Linked DNA regions of Homo sapiens. The protein of the gene in region 2 interacts with the protein of the main gene of each other region in a pairwise test. Each region holds a gene or a part of one and is shown on either strand. Other genes may lie near its edges.

The links.
Region 1: the proteins of SLC18A1 (region 2) and YIPF1 interact in a two-hybrid assay, tested with the Homo sapiens proteins (one large-scale study listed by BioGRID).
Region 3: the proteins of SLC18A1 (region 2) and MARCHF2 interact in a two-hybrid assay, tested with the Homo sapiens proteins (one large-scale study listed by BioGRID).

The regions. Positions count from the first base shown.
Region 1 is NC_000001.11:53,851,798-53,855,297, forward strand, and holds part of YIPF1 (protein YIPF1), read right to left. Parts: intron 3,255-3,500; exon of another isoform or gene 3,204-3,254; intron 474-3,203; 3' UTR 1-473.
Region 2 is NC_000008.11:20,180,910-20,184,738, forward strand, and holds the start of SLC18A1 (chromaffin granule amine transporter), read right to left. Parts: upstream 2,228-3,829; 5' UTR 2,154-2,227; intron 1,044-2,153; exon of another isoform or gene 840-1,043; intron 179-839; 5' UTR 56-178; coding exon 1-55.
Region 3 is NC_000019.10:8,430,150-8,433,878, reverse strand, and holds part of MARCHF2 (E3 ubiquitin-protein ligase MARCHF2), read right to left. Parts: intron 3,222-3,729; coding exon 3,012-3,221; intron 1-3,011. UniProt on the Homo sapiens protein: E3 ubiquitin-protein ligase that may mediate ubiquitination of TFRC and CD86, and promote their subsequent endocytosis and sorting to lysosomes via multivesicular bodies.

The DNA.
Region 1 (3,500 bases), on a different chromosome or scaffold from region 2:
ATTTTCAAGCTCCCGGTTAATCCCCACCAAAGTTTCTACTGTTCGGCTACTTCAGGATGGCTAACATTTGGAGAGAAGAGGATCCCCCAGGTAGTCTGTACATAATTCAGAGAGAGGACATCAGAATTTTCCATGGTTCTATTTCAGGTATTAAGGTACCACAGTGAAGCATGTCATTTGACTGTGGTGGCAAAGGGACGGCACTGAGCATGCCTAACCTATTCCCTGGCATTTCAGTCCAATCAGCGCATGCTCGCAATGATCATCCATGGGTGAAAAGGAAGAGCTGAAAGACACATGTGCTGAGCAACATTTAATTTCTGCTTGTTAAACGGGTGATTAGGCGCCAGTGTGGCACCATCCAGACACTGGGAATTTGTGCCACTCCATCAGTTCTGCTGGCTCTGCTCATTCTGCTTTCCTGCAGTGGATGCCACTTCCCAAAGAACCATGCTCCAAAAAACAAAAGAGAACTGAAAAACAAAACGGGAAACTTTCAAGATAAAGCACCCCCCCACCCCGACAGGAAAGAGCTACATTGTAGAAAAGGATATTCATGTATGTTTAGAGATATAACTCCCAACACCGGAGCAGTCTGCTGCCACCAATTCCCTAAATCTTGAGGCTTGAGTCTAATTTTGATGCTAAAAGTAGAGCTTAGTGTTGGAAGAAAGATGATGCTTTAAAAAGTTTTCTTCTATTTGCTTGGAAACCCAGTGACCCTTTCCAAGCCAGATCCTAAAGCTACCTTTGCCCATCCTTCTCTCTTTCTCTTCTCCGTGACAGCACTGTGTTAAGCACTAGAGGAGAAAAGATAAGAGTGGATATGGAGGGACTTAAAGATCTGGGACCTGGAAAACCGTGGTAATTGAAATGTAAGGTTATACAGGAGATAATGGCAGGATATGAGGCAGGACAAATAAATCAGGGATAGATTGTGGCAATGCAGGGGGTTTCAATTTTGTTATTTGGGCAATAGGGGGCCAAAAAAAAAAAGTTTCTAAGTAGGGAAGTGACATAGTTAAAGGCGTGGTCAGAATTATAAATTTTCAAAGACCCCTGTGGCTGTGTATAGGATGAATTGGAAGGAGAAAAAGAAAAGAAGTGGAGAAAGCCATCATGTTACTGCTGCAGTTCAAATATGAAATGATCGGTCCTGAACACTGGGTATGGTAACAACAGGACAGAGATGAAAAATACTTCAGAGATAGAAAAGACAGGTCTTGCTGACTGATACTATGTGGAAGGTGAGTGGGGGGAATCTACAATCTACCTTGATGCTGAGGTTTCTATCTTGGGTGACTGGATGGATTTCTTAATTAATCCAACAAATATTGAGGACCCATGTGCCAGGTACTGGGGACAGTGATGAACAAGACAGACATGGTCCCAACTGTCAAGGAACCAGTCTACCAAGAGAAGCAACAGGGCAAACAAATACAGAAAATATTATTTATTTAATTATAATCTTAACTTGCCAGGCGAGGGTGTAATAAAGAATCTAACCTACTCTGCAGTCAGGGACAGTATAAATGATGGTGCCATTCCCTGAGACAGGAAAACATGAGGAGGATCTGGTTGTAGTGGGGGATGAGTATAGCTTGGAATGTAATGAATTTGAGGCAACTGTTGGTATACCTACCTGGGGATTTGCAAGACAGGGAAACTTGGAAAGAGGGGCTGGAGATAGAGTTAAATCCAGGGAAGACTAAGGAATATGGTGGAGAATAAGTTCCTAATGCATAGCCTTCCACTTGGGAGAATGAGCTAGGCCTTCCTGGAGACATCAACAGGACAATACCACATTCAGATGTCAGCGTTTGATGATACCACGAAGGTGAGGCTAAGGCAAGGGCTAACTGCCCAAGTCTACTGGCTCAAGAAAAGAGAAACATTGCCAACAAAATATCTGTGAAAAGTGGCTGGAGAAAGCCAGATGCTGTAATTTGCTGGCATGAAAGAACCTAAAGCCCTGATCAGCCTTTTAGTAACCATCAACTTGGGTTCTGAAACGCTAAATAAAGGTAGGGACAAACGGGCCCACAGAGCAAGCACTCAAGATTTTATATTCATAAATATATACTCTGTTTTTCTCTCCTCTTTCTAGCTGTCTGTTCCAAATCAATGTCAAGACTAGGGAAGAATATGAAGACTAGAAAATTCCCTTCTCAGGTAGGCATGGTGACTCATGCCTGTAATCCCAGCACTTTGGGAGGCTGAGGTGGGCAGATCACTTGAGGCCAGGAGTTAGAGGCCAGCCTGGCCAACATGGCAAAACCCCATCTCTACCAAAAATACAGAAAAATTAGCCAGGCATGATGATGCATTCCTGTAATCCCAGCTACTCGGGAGGCTGAGGTATGAGAATCACTTGAACCCGGGAGGTGGAGGTTGCAATGAGCCGAGATTGCACCACTGTCCTCCAGCTTGGGCAACAGAGTGAGACTCTGTCTGAAAAAAAAGAAAAAAAAAAATTCCTTCTCCTGCTGCCAACTTTTAATGGGTGGCCAGAAGCGAAGAGGTTGGGAATTCTTGGCACTTAGGCCAGAGGGAGAAAAGTAAGATGCTGTTGCCCTTTGTGCCAAAGTTGGTCCCTAATGTCACCATCAGCCAGCACTTCCTTACCTCTTGAAGATTGCCTCTACCACCTCTTGGCCTATGACCTGACTCCTGACCATTTTTGGCTCCCCATCTTGGGTGGCTGCACTATCGCATGGGCATTCTCTGTCCCTTTCCTTGCCTCAGCCCTGCAGCCAAACCTTCCAATGTCACCACAGTCTGATCTGGGATGTTCCAATGAGAAGTTCCCATAATCATGTTTCTCTCTTTAATGTAAAAGGGCCTTCTAGTCTGTGTGGCGTATGAGATGTAAAACTGGAGTATAGAATCTGGGAGGGTAAGGACTGATCTCCGTTGTTCACCAGCACAGAGTAGAACTTCAATGAATGAACAAGTAAAGATTTCCCAAGTAACCTGCCACATAAATCCAGGAAAGTTTTGATGCTATATGATTGGCCTAACAACTTGTTCAAATGAAGCTTTCTCCAAGTGTCTGCTGGGTGCTAGGGAGCTATATTGGTAAATAAAGCTCTGCCCTCAAGGAACTCTCAGTCTATGAAGTTACAGTGAATAAGCAAACTGCCATAATAGAAGAACATACGAGAGCTGTAGAAGAGCACAGAAAAGAAAATAAGTAATACTACCTGGAGAAGTCAAGAAAAACTTCAGCAAGGAGAGGGTATCTCAAGTGAGTCCTGAAAAATAAACAGGAAATTGCCAAGTAGACAAGGCTTGTGAAATGAACACTCTTGACAATGTGAGCGAGTGACAGGATAACTGCATACAAACCCTGTGTATCCAATCAGGAGGATTTAATGACAAAGGACTCTCCAGAAGCCCTCTCTGCATCATTAATTAAAGCCCTGATCACACTGCGATATGATTATCTGCTGATGGCCCTCCTCCGGACAGCCCCACCTGTCACTGCCCCTGGAAAGCTC
Region 2 (3,829 bases):
ACGCTCTCCCCTCCTTCAGCAACCGCTGGGGAGCATCCAGAATGGTCCGGAGCATGGTGATGGCCGGACTGGGGCAGTCTTCCCCTGCGGGCTCTTAGGGAAGGTCCTGTGACAGCTACAGGTCTCCTGCAGCCTTTATGGAAGAGGGGAGGGAGTCTGCCCAGACGAAGGAAACTCACTATTAAAACGAAAAGTGCAAAGGGTTGCAAGTAGTAGGATGATATTTGGAAACATCTCCATGTCTGTATCACTGTTCACTTCTTATAAATCTCAATAACTCTACCTGGTTCCCAGAATGCCTTCCTGGTAAGCATCGCTTACTAGCTATTTATGTCTGGATTTATATCTAGCCATTAATTTCCCTTGAATTTAATGGCTAGGTATAAATCCAGATAAAAATAGATGCTCTACAGATCACTTAACCCTGTGTTTTTCAAACATCCGACATTTATTTGCCTATCACCTTGATGGTTTATGTCATATCTAAGGACTACCTGTACTATCATTTACTTCATCTTTTTCCTCTAGATCCACTCTTTTAAAATATTGAGATACTGCCAGGTATGGTGGGATGTGCCTGGAGTCTCAGTTACTTGGGAGGCTGAGGTGGGAGGATATCTTGAGCCCAGGAGTTTGAGTCCAGCCTGGACTACATAGCAAGACCCCTAACTCTCAAAAAATTTTTAAAACCAACATAGATATTGATATCATGTTTCAAAAAGTTATTTTATGTGGCATGCAAAAAAAGTATGACCTTTGTTCTAGGTGCTACCCCAAAATATTTCATGTGGCACAGTGTCACTTGGGCTGCCCACTGAGAAACACTGATGTAGACCAACCTTCATCTCATAGACAAGAAATCCGAGCCTCTGAAGGTTAGGAGATTTGTTTGGGGTTGCACAGTTAGTGTCAAACTGGGATGAAATCCCACGCTTTTCAACTTGCCAGCTTATCCTCTACCATGTTCCCTTGCTCTGTGGTTCTAGAAGCACGCTCATTCTTTTGTTTGAGCTACAAACCCCTGATCAGAAAGATGCCTTCATCTGTGAAAATAAAATATTGACTTTCATGATTAGTTCTCTATTCAGGATTTCATATCATTAGTCAGCATTAAGTCACAGTACCTTGTCAAACTTCAAGTAATAAGAGTTTCTGGGGAGAATTTCATTTTCTTTGACGTGGCTTCTGTTGTGGTATCAACAATATCACTCATTTAAATTTTAAAATAGATTACCATCATGAAATCTATCAGGCCCTAAAAATTGTATACTCTTTGACTTAGTAACTCTACTACAAGGAACCCATCCTACAAAAGAAAAAAGGTCAGAGATGCAGCCAAAGACTTATACTCAAAATGATCAATTGCAGAATTATTTTTCTTAGTGAAAAAAGTCAAACATGTTAATGGTGGATTATTAAGCGGCTCTTAAAAATTATATTTTCAAATAATTTTAATGATACAGAAAATACTATTACTATAACGTTAAGTAAAAAAGGGAAATTAAACTGTGTTTTCAACTTTATCTCAATTGTCTAAATATAAATATATGGGCACATTTTTGAGAGAGTAGAGAGATACTCAAATGCCAGTTATTTATAATCAATGACTTCAGTTATCTTCTGTGTATTTCTAAATATTCAATAATGAGCTACTTTTGTAATTAAAGAAGTAAATAATTTTAAATGATTATCACTGAAATTCAATAGTCAGCCTCAGGTGTTGGGAGTACCCCAAACACTGAGGTACTCTGTTCTAAGCCCAGGGCTGGAAGAACCCTCTCACTACTACATATTAACGTGACCAAGGTCCTAAGTGAACCAAATTCTCAGTTAAGTTTTAACCAGTAAATGCATGCAATTACTTAAGATCCTTCATTTCTCTATATAAAGGAGGTATTTCTGAATACAAATTGACTTAGGATATGTATGGATAAGAATAAAAGACAAGCCATGGAAAATTAAAAAACATAGTGAGTGAAGTAAGTACTACAAAGAGAGAGAAACACACACACCCAAATCCCAAAACAAAAACAAACAAAACCAGGAATTTGCCAACAAATCAATAGTAAACTTTACTTAACAGTCAAAATCCTCTGACAGAGACACAAATCACAAGGAAAGATTAAATTTGTCCGGAGAGAGAAAAATCTTACCTTGGAGCCCATGTTGGTGTGAGGCACTCAGTGAGGTATTGGCAGCTGTTAGCAAGACAGCAGGGACACTGTTCTCTGAACGTGGATGTGCTGTTGGATTTATTGCCTCCTGTTATCTGAGGATTCTGTGTATGTGTGTGTGTGTGTGCCTTTGTCCACAAAGATTTAATTGCAACCTCCAACAGGGTTCATTCAGACCCTTAGCTCCCTGCGTCAAAGGCAGGAAGGCAGGGCTGGAGAGGATAAAGAGAGGGCAGATATTAGCCTAAGCAAAGAGGCACTGGACTGTACTGTTTTGCATCTGTGCTTATCTATCATCGAACTCTTTAACTCTTGCCTGGGTCTGAATACAAATTGGAAGCCAAGATGGAACCAGTGTGCAGTTCCTGTTCCTTGCTACTTAGTCAAAGTGGCTCCATGTACCCCAATTAGCTTCCTGGAAAGAAACAATGTATGTTGTTCTCAAGCCATAAAAACCCAACATCTGTGGCCTCTGTAAAGGCTTAGATTATGCACTGTGTCTTCACATCTCAATACTGGCTCAGTGCCTGATACATGGTAGCATCCAATAAATATTTCTTGCATGGATGACTGGATGGTTAACTACAGGAGAAAGTGCAGTTCCTTGTGGGATCTTGAGAGGCTCTAATGATCTATATTATTCTGACATTAAACCATTGGTGGCTCAAAGAACATAAGCAATTTATGAAAAAGCAAATACACTTTACGAGCAAGAGCAGTGCAGAGATTTCCTATTTGTGGAACTGGTGGGCCCCTCCTAATTGTGGGAATTAACTAGGGAACTTTCGATTTAACGCTAAAAAAAAAGAAAATAGTTTTTTAATTTTATTTTTTTTATTTTTGAGACAGAGTCTCGCTATGTCACCCAGGCTAGAGTGCAGTGGCATGATCTTGGCTCACTGCAACCTCCACCACCTGGGTTCAAGCAATCCTCTAATCTCAACCTCCTGAGTAGCTGGGATTACAGGTGCATGCCACCATGCTCAGCTAATTTTTGTATTTTCAGTAGAGACAGGGTTTCACCATGTTGGCCAGGCTGGTCTCGAAGTCCTGACCTCAAGTGATCCTCCTGCCTTGGCCTCTCAAAGTGCTGGAATTACAGACGCGAGCCACAGCGCGCGGCCTAGATGGAAACAGTTTTAAAATGTAAACCTAGAGCGAGAAATAGGGATAGGAAACAAAGACATCAGCAGAATGTATTCATCGCTATAGTTTGCTGCTGTAACAAATTACTACAATCTGGTGGCTTAAAACAACACGTATTTAGTATCTTGCAGTTCTGGAGGTCAGAAGTCCAAAATACATCACACCGGGTTAAAATGAATGTGTCGGCAGGGCTGCATTCCTTCTGGAGATTCTGGGGGATGGTTGTTTCCTTGCCTTTTCCAGCTTCCAGAGATCTCCTGCATTTCTTGGCTCCTAGCCACTTTTACCCTCAAAGCTAGCAGCAATGCATATTCAACTCTCCCTCTGACTCTGAGCCTTCTGCCTCCCTCTTTCACTTGTAAGGACTCACGGGATGACCCTGGGCCCACCCAGATATTCCAAGATCACCTCCCCATCTCAAGATCCTTAATCATATCTGCAAAGTCCCTTTTACCATAGGGGACTACCAAGGCAACATACTCACAGGTTCCAGGATTAGGAGGTGGACA
Region 3 (3,729 bases), on a different chromosome or scaffold from region 2:
TTTTTTTGAGACAGAGTCTTATTCTGTCACTCAGGCACCCAGGCTGGAGTGCAGTGGCACGATCTTGGCTCACTGTAACTTCCACCTCCCAAATTCAAGTGATTCTTGTGCCTCAGCCTCCCGAGTAGCTAGGATTACTGGCATGTGCCACCACACCTGGCTAATTTTTCTTTTCTTTTCTTTTCTTTTTTTTTTTTTTTTTTGAGACGGAGTCTTGCTCTGTTGCCCAGGTTGGAGTGCAATGGTGCAATCTCAGCTCACTGCAACATCTGCCTCCCAGGTTCAATCGATTCTCCTGCCTCAGCCTCTTGAGTAGCTGGGATTACAGGCATGTGCCACCACACACAGCTAATTTTGTATTTTTAGTAGAGACACGGTTTCACCATGTTAGTCAGGCTGGTCTTGAACTCCTGACCTCGTGATCCACCCGCCTCAGCCTCCCAAAGTGCTGGAATTACAGGCGTGAGCCACCGTGCCTGGCCAATTTTTTGTATTTTTAGTAGAAACGGGGTTTCACCATGTTTCTCAGGCTGGTCTTGAACTCCTGACCTCAAGTGATATGCCCCCCTCAGCCTCCCAAAGTGCTGGGATTACAGGCATGAGCCACTGCACCCAGCCTTTTTTTTTTCCTTTTTCTTTTATTAATATTATTATTTTCTTCGAGACAAGGTCAGGCTCTATCACCCAGGCTGAAGTTCAGTGGTGCAATCTCGGCTCACTGCAACCTCTGCCTCCAGTGCTCAAGCGATCCTCCACCTCACCCTCCGGAGTAGCTGAGACTGCAGGCACGCACCACCACGGCCGACAAACTTTTGTATTTTTTCTAGAGATGGGGTTTTGCCACTTTGCCCAGGCTGGTCTCAAACTCGTAAGCTCAAGCAATCTGCCTGCCTCAACCTCCTAAAGTGCTGGGATTACAGGCGTGAGTCACCATGCCCAGCCCCTATTATTATTTTTTGAGATGGGGTCTCACCATCTTGCCCAGGCTGATCTTGAACTCATGGGCTATGGTGATCCTCCTGCTGCAGCCTCCCAAAATACTGGGATTACAGGCAGAAGCACTGCACCCAGGCTTTTTATCTTTTTTTGATACTGGGTCTTGCTTTGTCACCCAGGGTGGAGTATAGTAGTGTGATCACAGCTCACTGCAGCCTCAAATTCTTGGGCTCAAGTGATCCTCCTGACTCAGCCTCCCAGGTAGCTGGGACTACAGGCATGTGCCACCATGCCCAGCTAATTTTTTAAAATTTTTTGTAGCCACGGGGTCTTTCTATGTTGCCCAGGCTGGTCTTGAACTCCTGGCCTCAAGGGATTTTCCCACCTCGGCCTCCTAAAATATTGGGATTACAGGTGTGAGCCAACATGCCCAGCTAATTATTTTCCTTTTGTAGAGATGGGGTCTCCCTAAGTTGCCCTGCTAGTCTAAAACTCCTAACCTCAAGAGATCTTCCCACCTTGGCCTCCAGAGTAGCTGAGAGTGTAAGTGCACACCACCACTAATTTTTAAATTTTTTATAGAGATGGGCATCTGGCTTTGTTGCCCCGTCCTGGTCTTGAACCTTCTTGCTTCAAGCAATCTTCCTGCCTCAGCCTCCCAGTGTGCTAGGACTGCAGATGTTACAACCACTGGGCCTGGCCTCACTCAGTGTTTTCATCTCAGTTCCTCTCTCTCTTCCCCTTCAATTTTTCTTTTCTTTTCTTTCTTTCTTTTTCTTTTTTTAAAGACAGAATCTCACTCTGTCGCCCAGGCTGGAGTACAGTAGCAGGATCTCAGCTCATTGCAACCTCTGGCTTCTGGGTTTAAGCGATGCTCCTGCCTCAACTTCCCTAGTAGCTGGGATGACAGGCACATGCCACCACACCAGGTTAATTTTTTGTATTTTTAGTAGAGATGGGGTTTCACCATGTTGGCCAGGCTGGTCTCAAACTCCTGACCTCAAGGAATCCGCCTGCCTCAGCCTCCCAAAGTATGGGGATTACAGGCATGAGCCACCGCACCTGGCTTTCCTCTTTCAATTTATTTTTGTTTTTATTTTTATTGAGACAGAGTTTTGCTCTTGTCGCCCAGGCTGGAGTGCAGTGGCGCAATATCGGCTCTCTGCAACCTCTGCCTCCCGGGTTCACGTGATTCTCCTGCCTCAGCCTCCCGAGTAGCTGGGATTACAGGCACCCACCACCACGCACAGCTAAATTTTTGTATTTTTAGTAGAGACAAGGTTTCACCATGTTGGCCAGGCTGGTCTTGAACTCCTGGGCTCAGATGATCCACCTGCCTTGGCCTCCCAAAGTGCTGGGATTAAAGGAGTAAGCCACTGTGCCTGGGTTTTCCCTTTCAATTTCTTTCTTTTTTCTTTTTTCCTTTTTTTTTTTTTTTTTTTTTTGAGATCGAGTTTCGCTCTTTTTACACAGGCTAGAGTGCAATGGCATGATCTAGGCTTACTGCAACCTCCGCCTCCCGAGTTCAAGCAATTCTCCTGCCTCAGCCTCCCAAGTAGCTGGGATTAGAAGCATGTGCCACCACACCTGGTTAATTTGTATTTTTAGTAGAGATGGGGTTTCTTCATGCTGGTTAGGCTGGTCTTGAACTCCCTACCTCAGGTGATCCACCCACCTTGGCCTCCCAAAGTGCTGGGATTACAGGCGTGAGCCACCATGCCCAGCCTCAATTTCTTAATCAATATATATTTCCCCACTATCTTGTTCTCCCCCGATCTCTCTCTCAGGCTTTTGCTCCTCTCTGCCCCACTCCTAATCTTGGGGGTTCATGGATGGGGGTTCCTGCACTCAGGTCAAGGTTCACACCTGGCTCAGGGATTCCCTAGACCTTTGTCACATTTGGAATCTCAAGCTCCTGGAGAGGCAGGGTGACCTCAGAAGCTCTCTTCCACCCACGGCCATAGACAGAGGCAGCCAGGGAGCCCCGTGCCCCACAAGCCAGGGGCCAAATCCTTGGCCCTGCTGCTCCCAGCGGCAGAGCTCGAGACGCGTGCTGCACAACCACAGCCACTCACCAGCGTCCAGAGGACATAGATGGTGAAGAGGGCGATGGTGAGGGCAATGAGACCCACGGCCTCCAGCTGGCTGTGGAGCCGGAGGTGGTCCTGGGCCCCGCGCAGGCACAACCAGCCTGAGATGGCGGCCAGCGGTGTGATGAACAGGAAACACACCATGTCGCAGCACAGTGTCCGCTTCTCCGTCCGCGGCCCCGGGTCCTTCAGCCACTGCAGGGGAGAGGATAGGGGGCAGAGGAGAGGGGGCAGAGAAGGGGCTACTGAGGGGGAGGGGTAAGGACCTCCAGGCCTAGGCCTCCCTCTGTCCTTTCCTTCTTTCTTTTTTTTTTTTTTGAGACAGATTCTCACTCTGTTGCCCAGGATGGAGTGCAATGGTGTGATCTCGGCTCACTGCAACCTCGACCTTCTGGGTTTAAGCAATTCTCCTGTCTCAGCCACCGGAGTAGCTGGGATTACAGGCAAGCGCCACCATGCACGGCTAATTTTGTATGTATATATATTTTTTGAGACAGAGTCTCGCTCTGTCAGCCAGGCTGGAGTGCCGTGGCACGATCTCGGCTCACTGCAACCTCAACATCCCAGGTTCAAGCGATTCTCCCACCTCAGCCTCCCGAGTAGCTGGGATTATAGGCAAGCGCCACCATGCCCTGCTAATTTTGTATTTTTAGTAGAGATGGGGTTTCACCATGTTTGTCAGGCTGGTCTCGAACTTGTGACC